Linked DNA regions of Homo sapiens: region 2 is linked to region 1. Evidence: fine-mapped expression QTL. A gene starts in region 1. The other region holds a variant in brackets. All regions are shown on one strand. Distances are from middle to middle.

Region 1 (5,364 bases):
TATGCACATTAATGTTTGAGATCCTCAGATCTCCCTTTTGAAACTATTTCTCCGTCTGCAGGGGTCCCCAAACCCCGGGCTCCAGACTGGTACAGGTCTGTGGCCTGTTAAGAACCAAGCCGCGCTGCAGGAAGTGAACATTGAGCAAGAGAGCAGCGGTTCCACTCGATTCTCATAGGGGCAGAAGCCCTACTGTGAACTGCGCATGCGATGGATCTAAGTTGCAGGTTGTGTGCTCCTTATAAGACTCTAATGCCTACTGATCTAAGGTGCAACAGTTTCATCCCGAAAACATCCTCCCCTCATCCCCCCACCTGTCCGTGGAAAATATCATCTTCCATGGAACCAGTCCCTGGTGCCAAAAGGTTGGGGTCTTACTATGTTGCCCAGGCTGGAGTGCAGTTACTATTCACAAAGCTGGATGATTGCGCACCTCCGATGAAAGGGGCTCAAAACCAAGGCATTTCTGCCTAATAACCCCTTGGAAGTGCCTTAAAAGAGGGTCAATTATGTGTGCTTTTATATACATCGTCTGTCCAACTGCTTCTGCCTGGACACGCATATTAAAATAATTACCTGGCAGAATATTCTTTGCCTGAGCTAAACCCGGAGATCTTTTAAACGCTTGCAGACTCACAGAGCCTGGCACTGCGGACTTTGCTGCTGCTACCTCGTGAAAAGGAGGGGTACGAGCTCTAGGAGGCTGTCGGCCACGTCCAAACTACCAAGCTAACATCACTAGGAGCCGAACACGGCTTTTGGTCATGTACTGACGACTCTCATCTCTAAGATTCACGAACGGCGACCGATTGTCTGTTCGATTTCCCACAGGCGTCTTCCTTTCGTGCACCAAGAGGGAAAAGCAACGGCGGCTGCAGCAGGGCGCTGGGGTTACGAGTCCAGCCCTGGGGCCGTGCGCCCTCCCTCCGCGCCCGCCGGGCCACGCTGACGCTCCCTCCCGGCTCCCTGCCTTTCATCCCGACGCGGGCGCAGGGCAACTCGCTTTTCCTATTCCTTGCGCGCCGGTCGCACTTTCTAACATCTCAGAAATATGGCCCTTGTCACAGACTTTCATGATCGTGCACTTTAGAGAAAAGCCAGAATGAATGAACTTGTCAGTTTAATGTGAAGTCCTCAAGGGAAAGGACCATGTCTTTGTCATCCCAGAGACCACAGTACCCAACGGTCGGCTTGGCTCTCAGTGAGTGTTTCCCTAAGCATCAAAACAGGAATGACCAAAGCAACGGACAAATTAATGCATGTGGAAACAAGAAATGAATGCATGAGAGAGTGAAGAAAAGAAGGGGCCAGGCGCAGCGGCTTACACCTGTAATCCTAGCACTTTGGGAGGCGGAGGCAGGAGAATCGCTTGGGTCCAGGAGTTCAAGACTGCAGTCAGCAGTGATCGCAGGTCAGGCGACAGAGTGAGACCCGGTCTCACCACCACCCCCCCGAAAAAGGCAGGAACCCCAGAGGGCCGGGAGTGCCAGGTGCGGCCGCCCGGGAGCGGTGTGGAGGGTGCGTGGGCCACTTTGCCGCAGGGCCCACCGCCCGGGTCCCTCTGTAAGGCGCTTCTCCGGCAGACACCCCGAGCCAAAGCGGGCCGTACCGCAGCGTTGGGCACTTGGGTGGAGAGTGCAAGGGCGGCGGGCCTGCGCCCAGACAGGTGTAGCCGTCCCACGCTAGGTGTCCTCCTGCCGCTCCCTGGCCGCGCCATGCCTCGAGGCATGGAGGTGCTGGACCTGCCGGTGTGCAACCGCGCCTCGGGCCTGTCCTGGGGGCCGCACCACAGGTCAGTGCCCCACGGCGCCCTTGGCGTGCCCCACGCCTCCCTGGGGGCCCCACCGCCGCCCCCTTTTGGGACTGCTTACTTCCTCGGCTCTTCTCGCGCGCGCCTCGGTTCCATCCCCTACGGCCCCCACCCCGCCTCCGCGTCGCCGACCCCCTTCTCCGGGAGCGCGGGGAGGCTGGTCCGCTGAAGCGTGGAATAAGTCCCCTAGGACCCCAACTGGGGAAGCTCCGGTCCCCGGTAGGAGGCGGCGGGGCGGGGCGGGGCGGGGCAGCCCCTTGGGGGCGGGGCGGGAGCGCCTGGCCACGCGCCGCATCCTGCAGGGTGCACACAGAGCCGCCTTTCAGCCGCCCGAGAACTGCCCGCCGCACTCCACGACTGCGGCGCCTGCTCTCGGGCCGGGGTCTGCGCGCACCACGCGGCCGGCAGAAAGGGTAAGAGAAGGGAACCCCGCTTTGCAGGGCTCCAACTTCGGCGGACGCGTTACGGCGAGGGCGAAATGAGTCGGCCGTGAACGGTGTTTCCTGTTCCGAATCCCGAGAGCCCTGGAAAGTTTTGAAGGAGGAGGCATGGCCCGGCAGCCTTATCGTTTTCCCCAGGCAAGGATTCCGGAGAGAGGATCAGGTGTTTTCAGGTTAACCGTCAGGTGAGGAGTCTGGGCTTCATCTTTCAGGATGCTGGACTGGAGAAATCTTCCTAAAGTCGATGGCTTTACTTTCGTAGACTAGAGCTTGCTTGCTGCCTTGGGAATGCTTATATTAACTGCTTGCAGTTAGTTAAATAAGGCTAGGCTGTGCCTTCCAGAACAAACAGGCCTTTCCCTCAGGTGGGAGGGTTGTAGTGTGGCTAACCCCAGTTCCTCGGCCTTTATGAAAAGGCGCACAGTTCAGCCGGTTGGCGCTGCCAGCGGGCCCCTCCTCCGTGGTCAAACCTCCAGCCACCCCAGCACAGTTGAGCCAAAGTTGTGAGTACAAACAGACCTTGGCTCCCCCGTTTCCTGCTCTCCAAACATATATATATATATATATATATATATATATATATATATGAAATATATACGTATGTGTAAGTGTGTGTGTCTCTGGTTGAACGGTACTTGTGGGAAACAAAATTGTGTGTCATTGTAAACTGAGAATGGAAGAAAAGGTTAGTAAGAGAAAGGTGGGAGAGGTTTCTTATGGGTGTCAGGATGTAGACTCTGATATTTTATGTAGAGGGAACCAACTACGTAGTTCTCCCCAGAAATGGGATGTGGGTTTCACTCTCAGGAGCTGCTCATCACCTTTGTGATGTGCTAACCAAAATCGCACAACTTTTGGGAAATTTGATAGCTTTCCCCTATTGAGTCAGAAGTTTCTTGAGACTTTAGCCTGTCTTCCTCTTCATACCTTAAGAGGAGTCAAACTCCCGTTGCCGTGAACTTTCCACAGGCACACCCTTCTCCTTTAGAAAACCGTTCATAGGTCAGTTTCTGTGGCCGGAACTCTAAAAACGACACATTTTCCATACAGAGGCCATCATAATACCAATTTTATTTAACCTCCTGTAATAAAAAATGAGTGAATCCTAATAAAGTGTTTGAGGTAGCCACATTCTTTTCTGTGAAGGAGGAACATATCAAAAGTGTTTTTTTTTAAAAAAATAGAGTAATAGATATAAAATATTTTAATGAAGCAAGTGAGAAGAACTGAGAGACATAGTTTGAGCAAAGGGGCACGAAATACAGAACTGAAAGTCAAGAATGATCATATTCACAAGCTGATCTCTTTGGCTATGTCTCTGTCAGTGAAGTGAAACCTAGAACAAGACAATTTTAAAACCGGCGGAAAAAGAGATGGCTTCTTGTGACTATAGCTTTCAAAGTAAAAGTAGTGGCCAAAGAAAACTCTTCTGGCTGTAAAAGTAAAAGTGGACTTTCCTGAAGCTGGGCTGTTTTCTTTAAGGCCTAGGGTCTAAGTTCCGTGTGTCAGTTCTGAAGAATTAAATCACTCTTTAGTGAGCTCTTGTGTCACATGTTAAGGGGTTCATAGAAAAAAGTGCAGGCATACCTTGTTTTATTGTTCTTTGCTTTATTGCACTTTGTAGATACTGCATTTAATTCAATTTTATTTTATTTTACAAATTGAAGGTTTGTGGCAACCCTGTGTCCAGCAAGTCTATTGGTGCCATTTTTCCAACAGCATGTGCTCACTTTGTGTCTCTATGTCACATTGTGGCAATTCTCTCAATATTTCAAACTTTTTCATCATTATTATTATATCTGTTATGGTGATCTGTGACCACTGATCTTTGATGTGACTACTGTAATTGTTTTGGGGTGCCATGAACTGTGCCCATATAAGACAGGGAACTCAATTAATAAATGTTGTATGTGTTCTGACTACTCCACCGACCAGCCATTCTTCTATCTCTTTTCCTCTCCCCAACCCTCTCTATTCCCTGAGACACCACAATATTGAAATTAGCCCAACTAATAACCCTACAGTGGTCTCTAAGTGTTTGAGTGCAAGGGACAATCACAGGTCTCTTACTTTAAAGGTAGGAGTGATTAAGCTTAGTGAGGAAGGTATGTTGAAAGCTGAGACAGACCAAAAGCTAGGCATTTTGTGCCATTTAGCCAAGTTTTGAATGCATATGAGATGTTCTTGAAGGAAATTATAAGTGCTACTCCAGTGAAAATACAAATGATAAGGAAGCAAAACAGCCTTATTGCTGTTATGGAGAAAGTTTTTGTGGTCTGGATAGAAGATCAAACCAGCACCAACATTCACTAAAGCTAAAGCATAATCTAGAGCAGGCCCAAACTCTCTTCAATTCTGTGAAGGCTGAGAGAGGTAATGAAGCTGCAGAAGAAAAGTTTCAAGCTAGCAGAGGTTGGTTCATGAGCTTTAAGAAAGGAAGCCATCTCTATAACATGTAAGTGCAAGGCGAAGCAGAAAGTGCTGATATAGAAGCTGCAGCAAGTTAGTTGGAAGATGTAGCTAAGATCATTGATGAAGGAGGCTACTCTAAACAACAGATTTTCAATGTAGACAAAACAGCCTTCTATTGGCAGGAGATGCCATCTAGGACTTTCCTAGTAGAGAGGACAAGCCAGCATCTGATTTCAAAGGTGCAAAGGACAGGATGACTCTCTAGTTAGGAACTAGTACAGCTGGTGACTTTTAAGTTGAAGCCAGTGCTCATTTACCATTCCAAAAATCCTAGGGCACTTAAGAATTATGTTAATCTACTCTGCCTCTGCTTTGTAAATGGAACAACAAAGCCTAGATGACAGTACACTTGTTTACAGCATGATTTACTGAATATTTTAAGCTCATGGTTGAGACCTACTGCTCAGAAAAAAAGATTTCTTTCAAAATATTACTGCTCATTGATAATACCTCTGATCATTGAAAAGTTCTGATGGAGATGTACAAGGAGATGAATGTTGTTTTCATATATGTTAACACAACATCCATTCTGCAGCCCATGGATCAAGGAGTAATTTCAACTTTCAAGACTTATTATTTGGCCGGGCGCGGTGGCTCACACCTGTAATCCCAGCACTTTGGGAGGCCGAGGCGGGTGGATCA
Region 2 (5,382 bases), 62 kb after region 1:
ATAGTTGTCTGGGACTGGCTTAAGGGGTCACATGGTTACCCGGTGATCATCAAATGGGAAATGTTTGGACGTGAGATCACTATATTAAAAATGAAAATTAAGTGAGGAAAATTATTATAAAAAATTTCCAATTTAAAGTATTATGTTTTTCATCCAAGTTAATTGAGAAGAATGAAGATGGGCAGAGACTGCCTAAAACGACCATAGTAGGTTTACGATAGAAATGGTGACACGTCTTGTCTCTGCAGACGGTTTTGATTACAGCATCATCTTTCTGCCTTATTAAAGATCAGTATCTGAATTCTAAACTATTACCAAACTTCAGTTAGCATTATAATCTCAGGGACATCAAAGTTGTGCTAAGATGTTCTTGTTATAAAATGATACATTTGATTGGTAGATGCATCAGGAAATGAAACTAGGTAAGCCTTGGTTTTAACCCAAAAAAGTAAAAGGAGTTATTTTATCTTATGGCTTTTCCTCCATTTGGGCCTGTGGCAGTTGGAACAACAGAAACAACAAAAATAGCAGCAGCTAACACTTACTGCTTGTGTGTTAGACACTCTGCTGGGCATTTCGGTGTTCTTTCTTATTTACTCCCCACAACAACCCAGGGTACTGTTAGCCTCACTTAGGTGCTCTGCAAGGAGAAAAGAGGTTAAAAATGGTAAGTATTCCTTCCAAGTTTGTATACCAGTTCAGCCTTAAGTTTTGACCTTGTTAGTTGCATTAACCAAATCTGTGATCAAATCTGGTTTACAAACTGTTATACATGAATCTTAAACCTCCGTGCTGTCCTACCAGAATAATGTCGAGTAACCTGGAACACTCAGACTTTCTTCTTTTTAGGTGTCACATTTAATATGTCTAGAGAGAATTACTGTTTTTCCTATTTGAGATATTATATAATTAACAAAGTGACAACCTCTGGGTTGGTAGTAAATCTTGATAATATTGCTCTTCATACTCCATGTCACTGCTTTAAAGGTGACTCATGAGAAAAAATTATTCTTTGATATGATCTCTCTGATTTGGAGAACTTACTGTCTTAGAGCCTGGAAAAATGTATTTTTCTTCCTTGCTTGCCTCATGCTCTGAAAGCTTTTCCACCTCTTTGTCACTAGAGGGCAGTGTTGCACTGTGTGGAATAAATACCGTTCCTGAGGATTCGGCTTTAATTCACTGACTCCAAGGTCTGTGGACAAGTGGTCCCATCTCCTTTGCACCCCATCCCCGTCTCCCCTACCTCATCATTATTCTGGAAGGTGCTCAGATAAGATTGCTAGAATTTTACTAGATGGCTACCATTCTCAAGTGCTGTCTGTTAGGCATGGTGCCCAAGATTCTTCATCTCCCTTGCTGTGTTAACCCTTCCCTCCCCTTCTCTGTGAAGAAATCTGATTGTCCTGTTACAGAGAATAGGCACCTTAATATATTAAATAATATTCCTGAGATTACCCAGCTAGAAAGTGGCAGAGATGGGATTCAAACCCAGGTCGGCCTGACTCCAGTACCTGTGCTTTGACCCATACCCTGTAGAGCTTTTCTTGGTATTATCTAAAACAGATCATTGCAAGAGAGCATTTAGCCTGACAAGAAACAGTCTTGTACTTGGAGATCAACTGTGAGAGGACAGCCATGTAATCGGCTTCATTCTTTCAATGGTGTCAAGGTCACCTCATGGAAAATGAGGTTATTTGTTTTGTGAGCCTGACTGCATTTCCATATGTTCAATTTGTCCTTTCAAAGGATCCAGGTGAAACTGGGATGCTCTGAGCCAGCACTGTCCAAGAAAAATACAGTTTGGGCTACAATTGAGAGCCTTGCCTATACTGTAAAATTTTCTAGTAGCTACATGAAGAAATAAAAAAACAGATGAAATTATTTTTAATTATATATTTTAAGCCTAATATACCCAAAATATTATTTCAGCATGTATTCAGTATAAAATATTGAAATATTTTACATTCCTCCATACTAGTCTTTTTGATCTGGTGGATATTTTATCCACATAGCACGTCTCAATTTGGACTAGCTATCTATTGGATGCTGGCTATTCACACATTCCTGGTGACTACCACTATGGACATTGCAGCTCTAGACTTATGTCTTTCACTTAATGTTAGCTTTCCTTTATACCCCTGGAGGAGGGGAGGGATAAGGGATGTCTGTAGGGTTGCCTGCAGGTCTGTTTATGGCATCTCTCACCAGGCTGATATATTGGGGAAATACACAGCTGAGTTAATTCACTGAATGTACAAGTCAGTTGGGGGAGAGAACGTCAGTCTGGTTTTGGAACTTTGTGCTTTTCTTCACCATATTGCTGCCTCTTTGAATCTGAAGTTAGAATATTTTATTGCCCCTTGCATCCTTTCCCCCAAATTAATCCAAGCTGTCAGCATGTTCAGGTTCTGCCAGTATCTGAATCAGAGGACTTTCAGGTTACCTGAAGCCTTGAAAAGCTAGGCATTCCAAGCGGGCATTTTTGTGGGATTTTTAGAATCACAGCAACCTTGATTGTGAAAGCTAATTCTTTCTTTAAAACAAAACAACTAAAAAGGAGACATTAGGAAAACCGTTTGACTGATAGCTGGGGTCCCATAACACTTCAGCTTCCTATCTTCCTGTTAGGCATCTGATTTCAGGGGCTCAATGGAAAGGGAGTCAAGATGCAAAAGGCTTCCTGCTGATGTGTATTCCCAGCACTAATGGACTTTGGCACAGTGCCCTTTCAAAATGCCTGGGCACAGAGGGTGAGAGACTGTTGATGTTCTTCCAGACCTCATCTTGAATTATTAAACATTACTCTAATGCGGCTTTTACATTTCCAGAGGACTTTTTTTCCTGTGAGGAATAAATCATAGCCTTGCATTGTCCCCATTTTACAAATGAGAAGACCAAGACTTGAAAAGTTGTTGGACTTCACTGATGCCATGGGTCAAAGTTCAGCAGACTCTGCATTACATTTTCCTCCTTCCAAGCCCTCTGGTTTTAGCCAAGTACCCCTCAGCTAAAACATTTTGCCTAAAGTTTGCATGAGATTCTTGGCACCAGCTCTTAAAGCAAATATTTATGTTGTTCTCTGACATAAGCCATTGCAG[G/T]TTATGGTTTCATTGAAATTAAAGGTTTTTGGCCCAACTGCAAACTTATCATTTGTGAAATGAATGGTTGAGTTCTCATCGTGGGCCCAGAGAACCTATGGGGACTCTTTATGGAAATACCCATTTAATACGTATTAAATATCTACTGTGCACCCAACATTGCTAGGTTCTTGTAGACCAAGTTCTTGGAGGGAAGGAACTGTAGTTTGTTCCTCTTTACATTCCCAGTGTCCAGCACAGCACATAGACCATGGTAGGTGCCCAAAAAGTTTGTTTTGAACAAACAAGAAGCAGAGAGAGAGTAGTACCTGCTTTCCAGGGGCTTATGATCACTCAAGATCCAAAGGAATGCCTTACAAATGTGGTCCTTCTAGACTGGAAGCACATTAGGACCTTGAGTATTTTTAAGCTCACTTCTACTATGGAATTTGGCCACTGAAATAGACTCTGGTTCACAGCCACTTCTTGTACAAAATGGCAGGGTGTTACCAAACACCTAAAATTGACTGGGTCTCTGTTTTAACTCTTTGGTGTGTTAAAATAATTCTCATGTTCACAAGAGGAGGGGGAGGTAAAATGGTTATGAATAATGTTAATGTTGAGACAGATATTGTGTGTAGCCTGGTAAGTAACTAAACAGAAAATTAAAAAATGAATGTGACATGTACTGACAAACTAGCTATTTGCAGTTGAAACCTGAAGCACAGACAGTTGTGCTTGGAGTTAGGGGTTCTTGAAACTAGAGAAAGGAGTTGACTGGATTCCAAAAGAAACTAAGAAATGTGAATTATTAATGGTGCTGTCAGAGTTGTAGTTGACATCCATAGAAACCAACTTTAATGTCAATGTTTTCAGCTTTAACTTCAATGTTTTAAGGCTTGTGTAGCGTATGGAAAATATTTACTCTGGCAATCGCCTGTTTTACTGTTAAATAATCTACATATTGTTAAGTGATCTGTTCATTTGGATATTTCCTCTAGGTCTTTTTGGAGGAGGACTTTAGTTCATCAGAGTTTTTGCTGATGCAGCAAAGCCATGGGTGGGATCCTTGTTTGGGGTGCGTTTGTAGACCTTCTCCCTTGGCCACCAACTTTACCTTGCCTGGTCCAGCCACGTGGCTGGTAGTGTAAGGCACGGTGTTTGTATCTAGTTGGAGTACAGGGAAGTGTGTATAAAAACAATTAGAAGACCATAGTTCATTCTGTGATTCTTACCGATACGGAGTGCAGAGAAAGGACTAGAACTACCAGGGCACTTGGTCTTGAAGTACACTCTGAAATGACCCTTGAACATTGGCTTAATTGGACACAGAGAAGAGAAAGAAGAATAGAGCAGGTGAGGAGAATAAATTCCATGAGGGAAAAATGTAGGGATGGGCCTGGTGTTGGAGGAGAAGATAAGCACAGCATATTAATACTGTCAAGGAGGAGATGTGATGAGGCTGCATAAAGGAGGAACTTATCACAACCTTCTTGGTTTAGATTTTTATTTTGCATCCAAACTTTGTATAATCTCACAAGGGAGAAATGACCTGAAAGCCTTCTTCTTAAAGTACAGGTTTTACTGCAGCTTTGACTGGGGAGGGTAAAGAGATTGGAGTAAAAGAGACTTCCTTGGAAGTTTCTTTAATAATTCAGAAATTTGTGTTGACATCACAGTAGAGTAGTAAGGGTGGATTGGAGAAACATGTGATAGGAACAGACAGGCCTTAGAAGACTGAAAGCGGGGAAGAGTAATCAATTCAACACAGAGTTTTAAGGACTTAATTATTTCAGAGTAAATGTTTCTTTGGTAGGAGATTGGAATCACTGACAGAAATAGGGCAATTTAGAAAAAAAAGTTCATTTTTCTGGTTAGGGTGGTGAAAAGTTTTGTTTTGTTGGCATTTTCAAGGAATGGTCTGTTATATAACAAATGCCAGCTGAGCACAGTGGCTCATGCCTGTAATCCAAGCACTTTGGGAGGCTGAGGTGGGCGGATCACCTGAGGCCAGGAGTTCGAGACCAGCCTGGCCAACATGGTGAAACCCCATCTCTACAAAAAAATACAAAAATTAGCCGGGCTTGGTGGCAGGCACCTGTAATCCCATCTATTTGGGAGGCCGACACATGAGAATCGCTTGAACACTGGAGGCAGAGGTTGCAGTGAGCTGGGATTGCACTGCACTCCAGCCTGGGTGGCAGAGTAAGACTCTGTCTCAAACAAACAAACAAAACCTACAAATGCTCTCTAAGTGTAGAAAACATAAGAAGATGCTTATGTTAATTAGGAGAAAAACCAG

What was found. PIP is the estimated chance that this variant, and not a neighbour inherited with it, causes the effect.
Region 2: its variant is fine-mapped to the expression of MCOLN2 in whole blood (TOPMed, PIP 0.95).

The regions. Positions count from the first base shown.
Region 1 is chr1:84,993,867-84,999,230 of GRCh38, reverse strand. It overlaps MCOLN2 (mucolipin TRP cation channel 2), which reads left to right and starts at 2,118. Exons shown (of 14, transcript NM_153259.4): 1 at 2,118-2,435. The coding sequence starts at 2,359. RefSeq lists enhancers at 384-1,255, 3,576-3,635 and silencers at 1,826-2,115, 2,726-2,775.
Region 2 is chr1:84,932,151-84,937,532 of GRCh38, reverse strand. All of the region lies in intron 11 of MCOLN2 (mucolipin TRP cation channel 2), which reads left to right. Among named protein-coding and RNA genes, the nearest start is that of LPAR3, 42 kb to the right of the region's middle. The variant G/T (reference allele first, on the strand shown) is at 3,102.